Regions from separate parts of the Homo sapiens genome. Here region 2 is linked to region 1. Evidence: fine-mapped expression QTL. Tissue or cell type: whole blood. Region 1 holds a variant in brackets; the other region holds the start of a gene. All regions are shown on one strand. Distances are between the middles of the regions.

Region 1 (8,106 bases):
GCCTGTAATCTCAGTTACTTGGGAGGCTGAGGCAGGAGAATCACTTGAACCTGGGAGGCGGAGGTTGCAGTGACCCCAGGTCGCGCCATTGCATTCCAACCTAGACAACAAGGGCGAAACTCCATCTCAAAAAAAAAAAATAAAATAAAATAAAAAAATTATAGGCATTTTAGTAGGTGTGGTCATTGTGGTTTTGATTTGCATTTTTCTAATGATTAGTGATGTTGAGGCTCTTTTCATATACTTGTTAGCCATTTCCATTTCCATATCTTCTTTGGAGAAATGTCCATTCAAGTTCTTCCCCCATTTTTAAACTGGGTTCTTTGTTGTTGAGTTGTAAGAATTCCTTATATATTCTGAATGCGAACACCTTTTTGGATATATAATTTGCAAATATTTTTCCCATTCTGTAGGGATTTTTTTTCACTTCACTGATATTATTCTTTAATGCACAAAAGATGAATTTTTTTTTTTTTTTTTTGAGATGGAGTCTTGCTCTGTCGCCCAGGCTAGAGTGCAGTGGCGCAATCTCGGCTCACTGCAAGCTCCGCCTCCCGGGTTCATGCCATTCTCCTGCCTCAGCCTCCTGAGTAGCTGGGACTACAGGCACCCGCCACCATGCCTGGCTAATTTTTTGTATTTTTAGTAAAGATGGGGTTTCACCATGTCAGCCAGGATGGTCTCGATCTCCTGACCTTGTGATCCGCCTGCCTCGGCCTCCCAAAGTGCTGGGATTACAGGCTTGAGCCACCGCACCCAGCCAATGAAGTTTTGTACCCTGCAATTTTGCTGAATTTATTTATTAGTGCTAGTTTTGTTTTTTTGGTGAATTCTTTGGGATTTTCTATATGTAGACATGTCATCTGCAAATAGAGATAATTTTACATCTTCCTTTCTAATTTGCAAGCTGTTTTTGTTTTTCTTGCTTAATTCCTCTGGGTAAGACTTCCAGTACTATATTGAATAGCAGTAGTGAAGGTGGAAATCCTTACCTTTTTCCTAACGTTAGGGGAAAGCTTTCTGTCTTTTATCACTGAGTGTGATACCAGCTGTGCATTTTTCTAGATTATGTTCAGGTAGTCTTTTTCTATTCCTAGTTTTCTGAGTGCTTTTTGTCATGAAAGGGTGTTGGATTTTGTCAAATGCCATTCCTTGCACCAATTGAGATGATCATGTGGTTTTACTCTCTTGAAGTATAAATGTGGTGTATTACATTGATTTATTTTCTTATGTTGAACCACCTCTGCCTTTCTGGGATAAATCTCACTTGGTCATAGCATATAATCTTTTTAATGTGCTATTGGATTTGCTTGTTATCTTGTTGAGTATTTTTGCATCTATACTCGTAAGGGATATTGATCTGTAGTTTTGACTTTTTTTTTCCTCTTATGGTATCTTTGTCTGCAGTCCACTTAATTTTAAATCTATAATTGAGAAGGAATAAACCAATTCTGTAATTCTAAACTGGCCAGAGTAGTGCCAGACCAAGAATACTATCAAGTGAAATTTCAAACTTTTCTGAGACATAAAATTCATGACTTTAGTGACTTAAATTTGAAAGATTGCCTCATTGTCTCCATCACAGAGGATGTTGTATACTTGGTCCTGAAAAATATGTTTGACTAGGGTCCCATGATGGTCATCCATTAGGTAAGACAATAATTTGGCTTCATAAGTCCCCAGAAGAGGTTAAGCGTCCTGAGAAGGTAATGGGATAGGGAACATAGGAACATGTAGGATATGAGCTTCCTTAATACAGAAGAAAAGGTTTTTCTTAACTTATATATTTCATTCCATCTTCCCATTAGAGAAAAAACTTAATCTTATTTTGCTTTTTGAAAAAATTCTTCCAACAATATATTTCTGTACATGACTCTCATTTTATTGTTTCTTAGACATTTAGAAACCTGGGAGTAAGAGCAAAAACTCACGGCCTAATTATGTTTACACTGATAGTTTAAAGATATTTTAGCACTAACCAGCATCAATTCCTAATATTCATTCAAAATGTTAGCACTTGGTATAAAGAAGGAAACAGGTTGAGCAAGGTGGCTCATGCCTGTAATCCCAGTACTTTGGCAGGCTGAGGTGGGCAGATCACTTGAGCCCAGGAGTTTGAGACCAGACTGGGCAACATGGCAAAACCCTGTCTCTACAAACAATACAAAAATTAGCTGGGTTTGGTGGTGTATGCCTATAGTCCCAGCTACTTGGGAGGCTGAGGCAGGAGAATCGCTTGAACCTGGGAGGTGGAGGTTGCATTGAGCTGAGATTGTGTCTCTGCATTCCAGCCCAGGCGACAGAGCCAGACCCTGTCTTGAAAAAAAAAAAAAAAAAAGAAAAAGAAAAAAGAAAGGAAAAAGAAGGAAACAGGAAATGAGGAATAGTTCCATTAGGTCACACAGCAAGCCAGTGATGGAGTGGAGCTGGCAATTCTGATAGCATCTCTCTCCTTCTTTCTACCTGTTCTGCCACCTTTTGTTATCTTACATACTTGTCAAAATACAACCTGAGGAAAGCAAGAGTGCCAGGGCATGGTGAAGGCTAGGAATAGTCTGCTGCAAAGCAGGGAAGCCATTTTTCCCTCACTGGCTATGGGGAACCCTATGTTAACAGTGACTGAGCTTTTTCCTTAGTTGATCTTGTGCAGCATCTAACCTGGATGTGAGCAAACCAGTGTAAGAAATGAAACTGTAAAGGGAAAAAAGTGGATACGAAGGGAGGCAGGCATACTTAACATGAAGAAAACCTGGTCATTTGGCACTCTTTCAGTTAGGTTCTTTCACTTGGCTGGAGGTCTGGTGTGCCATAGCAGTTCTGCAAGCCTGCCAGAGAAATCTAACGATGAGAGTACAGTACCTTCATTGTCTAAACTTCCTCCCAACTAGTTAAGTGAAACTAGCTAAATGAGCAGCGCTGGCTTATTCCTTCGGAGTCATATTTTTTAACATGTGAAATATAATTATTGTAAGAGTCCACTCTCTTAAGTTTCAGGATTTGTTGGAAGACTGGGAATAGAGGGTGGCCATTGCCAGACCTGTAACTTGTAGAGCTGTGAGCCCAGCCATCTCCTGGGGCACTTTCCCAGGCTCTCTCAGAATTTCTGGGAGAAGGAACTGCCAGCTTCACCCCTGCAGTGCCCCCATGTCTGCTGGGCCCTTGCAACTTGAGAACTGGAGTTGGGCACTAGAGACAGGGCTTCCAGGATGTGGGTCTTCCTCTGGCTTGGCCATCCCAGGTCAGTCAGCTCTGGCAATGGAGGGCTCCAGCTGATCTTTTGGCTGTGGAAGGATGACTGGGTAGGGTACCACAAGGCTGTCCCTAAGTTATTAGGTTGAACCATAGGAAATTGTCAATATTTGACCATTCTGTTCTTCGAAATAGTGATTTCATATGGTTCAGCTTAAATTTCTAATATGGGGAAAGAAAGGAAAGAAATGGAAGCCCAAATAATCTATTGCCTGCACTAGGAAGCAGAATATATTTTCCAGAACATTAGTCTCTGTAGGGAAAAGAGAGATCAGACTGTTACTGTGTCTATGTAGAAAGGAAGACATGAGAAATTCCATTTTGATCTGTTCTAAGAAAATTGCTTTGCCTTGAGATGCTGTTAATCTGTAACTTTAGCCCCAACCCTGTGCTTACAGAAACATGTGCTGTATGGAATCAAGGTTTAAGGGATCTAGGACTGTGCAGGACGTGCCTCATTAACAGTATGTTTACAGGCAGTATGCTTGGTAAAAGTCATCGCCATTCTCCATTCTCAATTAACCAGGGGCAAAATGCACTGTGGAAAGCCGCAGGGACCTCTGCCCAAGAAAGCCTGGGTATTGTCCAAGGTTTCCCCCCACTGAGACAGCCTGAGATATGGCCTCCCGGGAAGGGAAAGACCTGACCATCCCCCAGCCCGACACCCGCAAAGGGTCTGTGCTGAGGGGGATTAGTAAAAGAGGAAGGCCTCTTGTGGTTGAGATGAGGAAGGCCTCTGTCTCCTGCATGCCCCTGGGAACAGCATGTCTTGGTGTAAAACCCGATCCTATGTT[C/T]GTTCCATTCTGAGATAGGAGAAAACCACCCTGTGGCTGGAGCCAAGATACGCTGGCGGCAATGCTGCTGTTACTCTTTGCTACACTGAGATGTTTGGGTGGAGAGAAGCATAAATCTGGCCTACGTACACATCTGGGCATAGTACCTTCCCTTGAACTTATTTGTAACACAGATTCCTTTGCTCACAGATTTTCCTGCTGACCTTCTCCCCACTATCACCCTGTTCTCCTGCTGCATTCCCCTTGCCGAGATAGTGAAAACAGTAATCAATAAATACTGAGAGAGCTGAGACTGGGGCCGGTGCGGGTCCTCTGTATGCTGAGCACCGGTCCCCTGGGCCCAGGGTTCTTTCTTTATACTTTGTCTCTGTGCCTTATTTCTTTTCTCAGTCTCTCATCCCACCTGATGAGAAACACCCACAGGTGTGGAGGGGCTGGCCCCCTTCAACTCTCCGTTCATTTTTTAGTTTTGTTGAGGCTCTTTTACAGGTTGAATTGTGTCCTCCCAAAAAAGGTATGTTGTGGTCCTAATCTCCAATACCTCATAAGGTCACTTTATTTGGAAATACATTTTTTACAGAGGTAATCAAGTTAAAATGAGGTCATTCAGGTGGGTCCATTATGACTGGTTTCCTTATAAAAAGAGGAGACTTGGACACAGAGATAGATCTGCACAGAGGGAAGACACTGTGGAGACACACAGAGGGAATGCCATGTGAAGATGGAGGACTGGAATGATGCATCTAGAAGCCAAGGAACACCTGAGGCTCCCAGAAGCCAGGAGGGAGGCGTGGACAGCTCCTTCCCTAGCACTTTCAGGAGAATGGCCTTGGTCAACACCTTGATTTTGAACTTCTGGCCTCCAGAACTGAGAGACAATGAGTTTTTGTTGGTTTAAACAATCCAGTTTGTACTACTTTGCTACAGCAGCCCTAGGAAATGAACACAGGCTCCTTCCAGTGATGAAAACCTATGCTGTTGGTAAGAAACAACAGTACAGCCTGGGTTAAAAATGGCACAGTGGTTTAATCTCTAGAATCTCAGACAACAGATTTGAGGTATTCATTCCTATAGGATCTGGCTGTGCTTCCTACACTGACCAAAAAAGATTCATGTGTTCAGATACAACAAAGCTAGCTTTCTAACTTACTAACTTACAATGTATATGCATATGCACATGCCTGTGTGTTTCCCACCATGTATTTATTCTTCATGCTTGGTTTTCTAGCATTTTCAAGTTTGCAGTAAAAGGTTCAATACACATTTATTTCTCTAGTCTGCAGTGGAGCAGGTAACATATCCTAAGGAGACAAGAGTTTTTTTTTTTTGTTTGTTTGTTTGTTTGAGATGGGTTCTTGTTCTGTTGCCCAGGTTGGAGTGATGTGGCATGATCTTGGCTCACTGCAACCTCTTCCTCCTGGGTTCAAGCAATTCTCCTGCCTCAGCCTCCTGAGTAGCTGGGACTACAGGCGTACGCCACCATGCCTGGATAATTTTTTGTATTTTAGTAGAGACGGAGTTTCATCGTGTTGCCCAGACTGATCTTGAACTCCTGAGCTCAGGCAATCCGCCTGCCTCGGCCTCCTAAAGTGCTGGGATTATAGGTGTGAGCCACAGCGCCTGGCCCGAGAGTTGTCGATATGCTCGCAGGAAGTATTTCTGTGTTAAAAAGTTGAGAAGATGGAAACTGAATCCTCTTTGTATTCAGAAGGCTGTTTCGGAAGGTCACTGTTGGCAGGCTTCTCCCTACAGGGATTCAGCAGTGAGGGAGCAGAGTATTTGGGGGACAACTGCTTCTTCTGGAGGGGCGAGAATGAGATGGAGTTCACCAGCAGCTCTTTATGTCAGACTTTTAGCAGGATTCAGCTTTATAAATAAGCCTAAACAAACAAAATAACAGCAGATGATTATATGTCAACTGACTTCAATTTGATGGACTACTCTAAATAGAAAGACATATACAAAAGAAGGATTTGATTCACATTTGTAGCTTCAGTCTATCTGTCCACTCTCATTTTTCAGCCAAATTAAGAATCAGCTTTTGACTATCACAATACTGTATTACTTCTCCCTGGGTAACCAGGTCCTCACCACTTGGCCATTTCATGGTTCCTCACTACTTCCATTAGAAATGAAAAGAACTAAAATTACAAGTGAGCCATCTGGCACCTTTATGATATTGAAAGGTTTAGTGAGACAGGAAGTACAAACCACAGCCTGGAATGGAGTTCTTAAATTGACTGTGGATTTAAGTTATTATCTTCCACCTGCTCCTTAAATCCATCATTCCTGCAAATGCTTCATACTTAAGAGGAAAAATAAATTTCTTAAACAAGATACAAAAAAATTAGCCATAAAGGGAAAAATGTAATAAATGCAACTAAATTGACATTAAAAATTTCTGTTCATAAAGAAGATACCTTAAAGCAAATAAAAGACAACTTACACACTGTAAGGAGGTATGTGCAACTTATATATCCAACAAAAAATTGTTCTAATAGAAAATATATAAAGAACATCTATAAATCAGTAAGAAAATGAGAACAAATGGAAAAAAAGCTGAACAAACAAAAATTTCACAGAATGGGAAAAAATATGGTCAATAAACATATGAAGAGACACTCAACCACACAGGTAATCAGAGAAATGCAAATCAAGATCACACCGAGAAGTCATTTTATAGTCATTTGACTGGCAAAAATCATGAAGTCTGACTTCACTAATTGCTAGAGAAGATGGGAATCTAAAGAATCTCATATATTGCTGGTGGGAGTTTAATTTGGTACAGGCTTAGAAAACAATTTTGCATTCCTCTGTAAAGCTGAATACTCACAATACTCTACCACCCAGAAATTCTGTTCCTAAGTATATGCCAAGCTCTTGCCCATGCACACCACCAGGAGACATGAACAAGAATGTTTATAGCAGCCCCATTTGTAATAGTCAGAGGCCTGTCACTGGAAGAGAGACATTCATTGTGGGACAGTCACATATGGAGTATTACACAGTGGTACAAACAAGTGAACACAGCCAACAACATGGATGAACCTCAGTACTCCAGGGAAGTAACAGGTCATGTGTGTGACTTTCCTGAGACAGTCTACACACACATAAATATAGACATATTTTTCTTATTTATGGTATCACAATATTTCACCATTTTTTAATGGCACACACATACAATATAGTTCATAGGTGAGCTGTAGTTCTTTAACCAGTCTCCTATTGATGGATAGCTATGTTTGCTACGTTTTGCCATTTTTCTTGCTATTGCAAATAATGTTGCATGAGTGACACAATCACTGGAACCCGATAGCAATCTAACACATTATAATTTTGCAGTTATTATACCTGTGAGATAAAGTCCTGGAGGTGGGTCAAAGGGCATATCACTTTGTAAATTTTTTTTTTTTTTTTGAGACAGGGTCTGGCTCTGTCACCCAGGCTGGAGTGCAGAGGTGCGATCTCAGCTCACTGCAACCTCTGTCTCCTGGGTTCAAGGGAGCCTCCCATCTCAGCCTCCCAAGTAGCTGGGACTACAGGCGCACACTACCATGCCCCGCTAATTTTTTGTATTTTTTGTAGAGATGGGGTCTTGCCATGTTGCCAAGGCTGGTCTCGAACTCCTGGGCTCAAGTGATCCTCCCACCTTAGCCTACCAAAGTGCGGGGACTACAGGCATGAGCTTATGCATTGGGCTGTAATTTTGATAGCTGTTGGCAACTTGCCCTTTACTAGCAATGTATAAGAATATCTTTAACTTGTTCTTTGTATGACAGGGAATTAAGAATTTTTTGGCATGTATGGGTTATAATACCAGGGCAAAAAACCAAACCAAACCAAAACACCCCCCTGACCCCCACAAAACCCAAATCAACCAACCAACCAACCAACCAAAACTCCCAACCCAACCCAACTAAACCCCAAGAAAGAGATAAGACCAGCTTCTTACTTGTCGCCTCTGAGTATAGGGTCTTCTCATCAACACTCTGAACATTACAGGAAACAAAAAATTTCCTTCCTTCAACTTTATCAAGTTGGCTATTTATCATAACAACAGAAC
Region 2 (8,106 bases), 37 kb after region 1:
TAGATTCCTGTTTTCTGTAACTAGTAACTTCAAGTATTCTGTTTTATCTAAACAGCACAGTGAAGGTTATAAGACATGCCTGAGTAGGCCTAGGCTGCGGCCGTCTGGGCACCATAGTGAAGATTATGAGATAAGCACTTGCAAGGCTCTTTTGAGCAAGCCTAGATAACAGCCACCTGGGCTGCATAAGCAAGGGTCATAGTGAGAGGTGACAGTGTGCTGGAAGTCCTCACAGCCCTCGCTCCCTCTCGGCGCCTCCTCTGCCTGGGCTCCCACTTTGGCGGCACTTCAGGAGCCCTTCAGCCCACTGCTGCACTGTGGGAGCGCCTTTCTGGGCTGGCCAAGGCCAGAGCCGGCTCCCTCAGCTTGCAGGAAGGTGTGGAGGGAGAGGCGCGAGCAGGAACCAGGGCTGCGCGGGGTGCTTGTGGACCAGCTGGAGTTCCAGGTGGGTGTGGGCTTGGCGGGCCCTGCACTCGGAGCAGCCAGCCGGCCCTGCCGGCCCCACGCAATGAGGGGCTTAGCACCCGGGCCAGTGGCTGCAGAGGGTGTACTGGGTCCCCCAGCAGTGCCGGCCCACTGGCGCTGCGCTCGATTTCTCACTGGGCCTTACCTGCCTTCTGGCGGGGCAGGGCTCGGGACCTGCAGCCTGCCATGCCTGAGCCTCCCACGCCCTCCGTGGGCTCCTGCACGGCCCGAGCCTCCCTGATGAGTGCTGCCCCCTGCTCCACGGCGCCCAGTCCCATCGAGCACCCAAGGGCTGAGGAGTGTGGGCACACAGCGTGGGACTGGCAGGCAGTTCCACCTGCAGCCCCAGTGCGAGATCCACTGGGTGAAGCCAGCTGGGCTCCTGAGTCTAGTGGGAACTTGGAGAACCTTTATGTCTAGCTAAAGGACTGTAAATACACCAATCGGCACTCTGTATCTAGCTCAAGGTTTATAAACACACCAATCAGCACCCTATGTCTAGCTCAGGGGTTGTGAATGCACCAATCGACACTCTGTATCTAGCTACTCTGGTGGGGACTGGGAGAACCTTTGTGTTGACACTCTGTATCTAGCTAATCTGGTGTGGACGTGGAGAACCTTTGTGTCTAGCTCAGGGATTGTAAATGCACCAATCAGGGCCCTGTCAAAACAGACCACTTGGCTCTACCAATCAGCAGGATGTGGGTGGGGCCAGATAAGAGAATAAAAGCAGGCTGCCCAAGCCAGCAGTGGCAACCCGCTCGGGTCCCCTTCCACACTGTGGAAGCTTTGTTCTTTCGCTCTTTGCAATAAATCTTGCTGCTGCTCACTCTTTGGGTCCACACTGCCTTTATGAGCTGTAACACTCACCGCGAAGGTCTGCAGCTTCACTCCTGAAGCCAACGAGACCACAAACCCACCGGGAGGAACGAACAACTCCAGACGTGCTGCCTTAAGAGCTATAACACTCACCACGAAGGTCCGCAATTTCACTCTTGAGCCAGCAAGACCATGAACCCACCAGAAGGAAGAAACTCTGAACACATCCGAACATCAGAAGGAACAAACGCCGGACATGCCGCCTTTAAGAACTATAACACTCACCACGAGGGTCCGTGGCTTCTTTCTTGAAGTCAGTGAGACCAAGAACCCATCAATTCCGACACAGTATGTAATCCTGAATTATGCACCTGTCACAATTTGATGAATTAATTGCCTTTGTGCTGCCTCTGTATCCTTGCTTTCACGCCACTATGCTTCACGCCACTGTAAGCTTGTTTCAAGCTAGCCCACCCCCTTTTAAAAGTGTGTATTAAAGTCAAGTGCTGTCTTTGTTCTGGGCCCAGCTTTTGGATGTTAGTCCGCTGGGTCTGAGTGCACTCAATAAAGTTCTCCTGTCTCACCCCATGGCCTCTCCAGTCCTCCTTCATTCCTGCAACAGAAGGATGAGTGAAATGGGGACTCAAAACCTCTCACTTTCATTTCTGAGCCTTTTGGTCTTATGGCATTCCTCTTCTTTTTGGGGGGACAGCAACGGCACCTATTTTTCTTTTTACGATACTGGAGGTGGTCCACACCCACCCCAATGGTCACCAGTGCACTCACAAGACAGTTGGGTGGGGTAGCTCCCTGGCCCCACTTCTTTACTGGCTGGGGTGCATGGTGGTGTCTGCAGCATGTGTGTGTGGTGTCCAGTAGCCACACAGGGCATAAATGAGCCACAGCCACTGCCCAGGCTCCAAGGCGCCGGCATGGCTGGCTGGCGTTCCCTACCAGGTGCCTGCAGTCTCCCCCTCCCCATTCCAGGGAGTCTAGCTCTGTCCCACAGCAATTAAGCTCCTCTCTCTGGTGGAGGAACCATTTGCATAGGAATAAGAGGTTCTTCCCCCAGGCATCCTTATCTCCTCTCCAACCCATCAGCAGTATACTTTTAAAGGAGGTTTTTCTTTTCCTTTTGGAAGACGTTTTGCTCTTTTGGGAATGATGAGGATTACCGTTTATATTTTCTGTAAAGTTTTGTGCGAAAGGATTTGTGAGGTAAGTCGTAAGCTGTAGCCAATCTGTGTGTTTTGCATGTCTTTCTGTATGCTCCACAGCAAACTTCGCTGCAGGCCTCCATCTTGTTTTACGTCCTTGGGGGCGTGGCCTGTAACCCCATTGCATAGCTTCGTTTAGCCCGGCATGGCCCAGATTCATCCTGGCTTAGGGAATGAGTCCTTTCTGGTTTGGTATCTGTATGCCCTTTCGCTATTTGTCGATTCCCCTGCCCTCCACCAACCACCTTGGATTTTCCTTTCTCTGAGCCTTTAAGTAAAGTTTGAAAGCCAGAAATATTGGCCGCTTGGTGGAGCTAAAGTTAGATAATAAGGGTGTTAAAAGAATTTTCTTAAGGAGTGCTCAGCTTAATTAAAAGTAGATATCTAAGTTGTAATTATATTTATAAGGCCTTTATGTTTTCCTTTTCTTGGACCTTATTTTGCTGGAAAAAGTGTTTCTTTGCGGTCGACTGAGTTATTTTTCTCCATTTTGCCTTGCCACTTTTAATGCCTGCATAAGAGGGGCGATCTCTGTTTTCCTCATGGAACCCCAGGAATTAAAAGCAGATAGATCCCTCTCCCTGTGATGAAAGATCTTATGGCAACTGGGTTTTCTTCTGCCTGTCTGTGTAGTTATATATGTGTTGTGTGTGATGTCTATAAAAAGATCTCTAATTAATTGACCTAAAGGAAGATAAGCGTTTGGATCAAATATTTTTTTAAAGGGAAGATAAAAGCTGTGGTATCTTTTAGTTCACGTCACTTTAATCTTTGAAAAATAAAAACAGCCTCAAATATTATTGGTAAAATACAGATGTTGTCAAAATATAAATAGACAGACTAAATTATGCAGTTCAGGTAGCGCCCTGCCGACCCTGTCTCTTAAAAAACAAAAAAACGGGGTCACCTTTCCATCCCTTTTCTAACGGTTTGAATCTCAGGACTGTATTCCTAGGCCCCTGTTGCTTATGCTGCCCTGTGGTGCCCAGGTGAGCTTTTATTCTGAGATTGGCTGGTTGGGGTATGGATAACAATCGAAGGCTCTGTTACCGCAGGCGTGTTTCTGAGTCCTGCTCCCGCCCCATGCCCGAGGGTGCCCAGACTCACCAGCTCGGGTCGCGGCTCGCTTCCCGGCAGGCGCCGGCCTACTGGCGGCAGGCACAGAGCCCCCAGCGTGCGGAGGCGCGCGGCGCAGCTCCTCAGCATGGCTCCGGGCCGCGGGGCCGCGCTTGCTCTAGCCCTGGACGGCGCACTCTACCTCCGCCACAAGAGCGCGCGTGCGAGTTAACCCCTGGGGTGGACGCAGGGCGGGGCTTGGGGAGGAGGCGGTGCGCACTACTGGCGGCTGGCTGGCCGGGGTGTGAGGCCGGCGGGGTCCGGGTAGGGCATCGCTGTTGAGTCTATCTTCTGGTTCCGGCCTTTTCTTTCCGAAGACCTCCCGCTGCGGCCAACAGCCGGGCCACTTCCGGGGCTTCTCAAAGGCAAGAGGAGCGCGGCCGGAGCGGATCCCGGTTATCGCCTTGGGCCCCTCAGCCCCTCAGCCCCGGAACCCGCGCGCCGACTGGAGGCTTTGCGGTCATCCTTCCCACATGACCCAGGGCGTACGCAGTGCTCCGTGTCCCCAAGTAGTTATCCCTCCCCCGGAAGACTGAAGTCCCTGGGGCGGGTAGGAGCGCACGCTAGGAGTAGTATGAATAAAGTGTTTTCTTGGAGGTCATGGGCAAGTCTCTGGACAGGGTTGATAGTGCTGATTTATAGAGGGCAGTCTGGGCACAAAGAGCATTTATACGATCGAAAAGCTGCTTTCCCTGCCAACAGCCCCATACCCTCCCCAGGAGCGCGCTTACGCCTTAAAAGACTCTTTTGTTATGTAAACTGACAGTTAAATTAAACGAAGGTAATGGATACTAAAGGCGTAACAGGTATTGTAACTATTTTACTGTTATCGATGCTTTTGAGGTTACTTACCTCGCTTGTATTCGTATGGTGGGAATACTAGGCGCATACCTTCTGAGCTTCGAATTCAGTAACCTCACTGGGACCTTGAAATCGGACTGGGTTGGAGTATTCCCATTACTCAGATAATGCAAATCCGGGCCATCATACCCCTTTATTTTTAAATGCTTACCAGTATGCCATAGCCCTAGTCCATCCTAAGGTGAAGACTCTAATGGGTTTTTTTTGAGACAGAGTCTCGCAGAGATACTGCTATTGCACTTCAGCCTGGGCAACATACTGATGCCCCATCTCAAAAAAGCAATAAATTAAAAAGAAAACTCGAATGACCTGAATGCATTAGATATTTTGCCTTGATTCCTTTCCCATGAACAACTCCAGCAGTTTGTCAGTAGGTAAGAACACCTAGATACATTTTAAGCCTACACTATTAACTGGGGGAAGGTGTAACATTCTGAGAGAAAGGGAATTGGGGAGAGAAGGCAATGCAGTTAGGAGGGGCCCCTTGGAATCCTAGAGCTACTGAACCGAAGATCAGGCATAAAGGATGGTTGTTGAGATTCTGTAATTCTAAGAGGTTGTATTCTGATATCTCCTAAGCACCCCCCCCAACCTCCCACATTCCCTTTATCTCAGTTGTCTTCCTTTTTAATATATTAATAGTATTGCAGTTTCCTGGTGGCAGGGATGGGGTCAGATTGCCTTATTAATTGTAACAACGTGCACGTAGTGCTTGAATACTTACTTAGCAGCAAGAATCCAAAGTATCTTTGGTGTCTGTTGTCTTCCCATGTTGTGCGTGCAGATGGAGGCACGAGCATAACGTAAATCTCTAAAATTGAGATGACTACTGTTAATGAATAGAAAAGTTTATTCAGGTAACTTAAAATTGCATCTATTTACAATTTACAGTGTAGTCAAATCAATCAATACCTATAGACTTCAACCCTGCTAAGATTGTCTATATGATTAATGTACCAATAGCTCACCTAACAGCTTCCTTTTGTTTTTTTGAGATGGAGTCTCACTCTGTTGCCCAGGCTGGAAGTGCAGTGGCATGATCTTGGCTCACTGCAACCTCTGCCTCCAGGGTTCAAGCGATTCTCCCTGCCTCAACCTCCCGAGTAGGTGGGATTACAGGCGCGTGCCACCACATCTGGCTAATTTTTATATTTTTGGTAGAGACGGGGTTTCACCCTGTTGGCCAGGCTGGTCTTGAACTCCTGACCTCAAGTGATCTGCCTGCCTCCCAAAGTGCTGGGATTACCAGCATGAGCCACTGCACTCGGCACCTATCAGCTTCTTAAAAGACCTTAGACTTAGGGCAATTAGAGGTCAGTTACACTGAGTTTAAACTTCATTAAATTTTAACTCTAAATTTTTCAAGTAGCGGCAGTGCATTTAGTTAAGTCATCCACACTCTTGCATGGCTTACTCTGGGATATTCGTGTTGACAGCACATATAAAATGTCTGGTCAGATTTGGAAGAGGAAGGGCAGGTTACAGTCTAGAAATAGGATTGATAGGCTATGGAAGTGAAGGAGTTTGAAGCTTGTATGGTTTAGGCAAGGAACAAATGTTCAATCTTGATAGAACTAGGCTTCGAATAAGCCAATGGTATGAAACTTAATAGTCTTCTCACCATTCTTTAATTTTGTAGACAGCTTTATTGAGGTGTAGTTGCCATAGGATGGGCACCGTGGCTCATACCTGTAATTCCAGCACTTTGGGAGGCTGAGGTGGGTGGATCACCTGAGGTCAGGAGTTTGAGACCAGCCAGGCCAACATGGTGAAACCCCGTCTCTGCTAAAAATACAAAAATTAAGGCCGGGCGCAGTGGCTCACTCCTATAATCCCAGCACTTTGTGAGGCTGCAGCGGGCAGATCACGAGGTCAGAAGATTGAGACCGTCCTGGCTAACACGGTGAAACCCTGTCTCTACTAAAAATACCAAAAATTAACCGGGCGTGGTGGCGGGCGCCTGTAGTCCCAGCTACTCGGGAGTCTGAGGCAGGAGAATGGCGTGAACGTGGGAGGCGGAGCTTGCAGTGAGCCAAGATCGCGCCACTGCACTCCAGCCTGGGCGACAGAGTAAGACTGAGTCTCAAAAAAAAAAAAAAAAAAAAAGTTAGCCAGGTGTGGTGGCGCATGCCTGTAATCCCAGCTACTTGAGAGGCTGAGGCAGGAGAATCGCTTGAACCTGTCAGGTGGAGGTTGCAGAGAGCCGAGATCGCGCCATTGTACTCCAGCCTGGGCAACAAGAACGAAACTCCATCTCAAAAAAAAAAAAAAAAAAAAAGCCAGAGGCAGTGGCTCATGCCTGTAATCCCAACACTTTAGGAGGCTGTGGCAGGCGGATCACAAGGTCAGGAGTTCGAGACCAGCCTGACCAACATGATGAAACCCCGTCTTTACTAAAAATACAAAAATTAGCTGGGCATGGTGGCGTGCACCTGTAATCCCGGCTACTCGGGAGGCTGAGGCAGGAGAATTGCTTGAACCCGGGAGGCGGAAGTTGCAGTGAGCCAGGATTGCACCACTGCACTCCAGCCTGGGTGACAGAATGAGACTCCGTCTCAAAAAAAAAAAAAAAAAAAAAAAAGAGATAGTTGACATAAACTGAACATATTTAAAGTATACAATTGGATGTTTTCATACAAGTTTACACTCATGCAAACATCACCATAATCAAGATAATGAGCCACAAAATATTACCCACAAATTTGCTCATGCCCTTTTGTAAATCCTCCCTTCTATCGTACAGTACTTTCTGTCACTGTAGATTAATTTCCATTTTCTAGAGTTTTATATAAATGGAATTATATAGTATGTACTTTTTGTGGTCTGGATTTTTTTAATTCACTATAACTATTTTGAGATTCATCCATGTTTTGCTTATGTCGAGAATTTATTTTTTAAAATTGCTGAGTAGTATTCCATTGTATGGATGTACCACAATTTTTCTATTCACCCATGGATGACCATTTGGCTTATTTCCAGTTTTTGTGAATTACAAATATAGCTGCTGTGAGTACAAGTCTTTGTATGGATGTATGCCTTCATTTCTCTTGGGTAAATATCTAAGAGTGGAATGGTTGGATCATGTGGTAGATGTATGTTTAACTGTTTAAGAAACTGCCAAACTTTTCCAAAGTTGTTGTATCATTTTACCAGCAGTGCATAAGGATTTCAGTTCCTCCATATCCTTGCCAGCCTTCGGTATGGTCAATCTTTTATGTTTTAGCCATTGTAACTAGATGTGTGTAAGTATTTTATTGTGGTTTTAATTGGCATTTTCCTAATGATGAATAATGTAGGACATCTATGGGCTTATTTTTCATCTGTGTATCTTCTTCATTGAAACGTCTATTCAAATATTTTGCCCATTTAAAATAATGAGATATTTGTATTCTTATTATTGCACTTATTAATGCACCTCTGATAACATTTCACATCTAAATTTTAAGTTAAATTTCAAACCTTCCATTTATAAGAAAACTGAATGTCAGCGTGATGCTAGCTGCTTTAATATTTCTTGCTGAATTTTTCTTGGATTTGTTGTCATAGGTCTCACTCTTGGAAAGGATGTATTCTTGAATTGTTATCCATGGGGCAAGGCACCAAAATGAGTCTCCGGCTGGGTGAAGGG

The links. PIP is the estimated chance that this variant, and not a neighbour inherited with it, causes the effect.
Region 2: it holds the start of THEM4, and the variant in region 1 is fine-mapped to the expression of THEM4 in whole blood (TOPMed, PIP 0.94).

Annotation. Positions count from the first base shown.
Region 1 is chr1:151,869,006-151,877,111 of GRCh38, forward strand. It overlaps THEM4 (thioesterase superfamily member 4), which reads right to left. Exons shown (of 6, transcript NM_053055.5): 5 at 7,996-8,106; 6 at 1,861-5,923. The coding sequence ends at 5,883. Among named protein-coding and RNA genes, the nearest start is that of THEM5, 19 kb to the left of the region's middle. The variant C/T (reference allele first, on the strand shown) is at 4,044.
Region 2 is chr1:151,905,752-151,913,857 of GRCh38, forward strand. It overlaps THEM4 (thioesterase superfamily member 4), which reads right to left and starts at 3,760. Exons shown (of 6, transcript NM_053055.5): 1 at 3,609-3,760. The coding sequence starts at 3,707. RefSeq lists enhancers at 506-1,045, 4,037-4,156, 4,145-4,732 and a silencer at 3,487-3,796.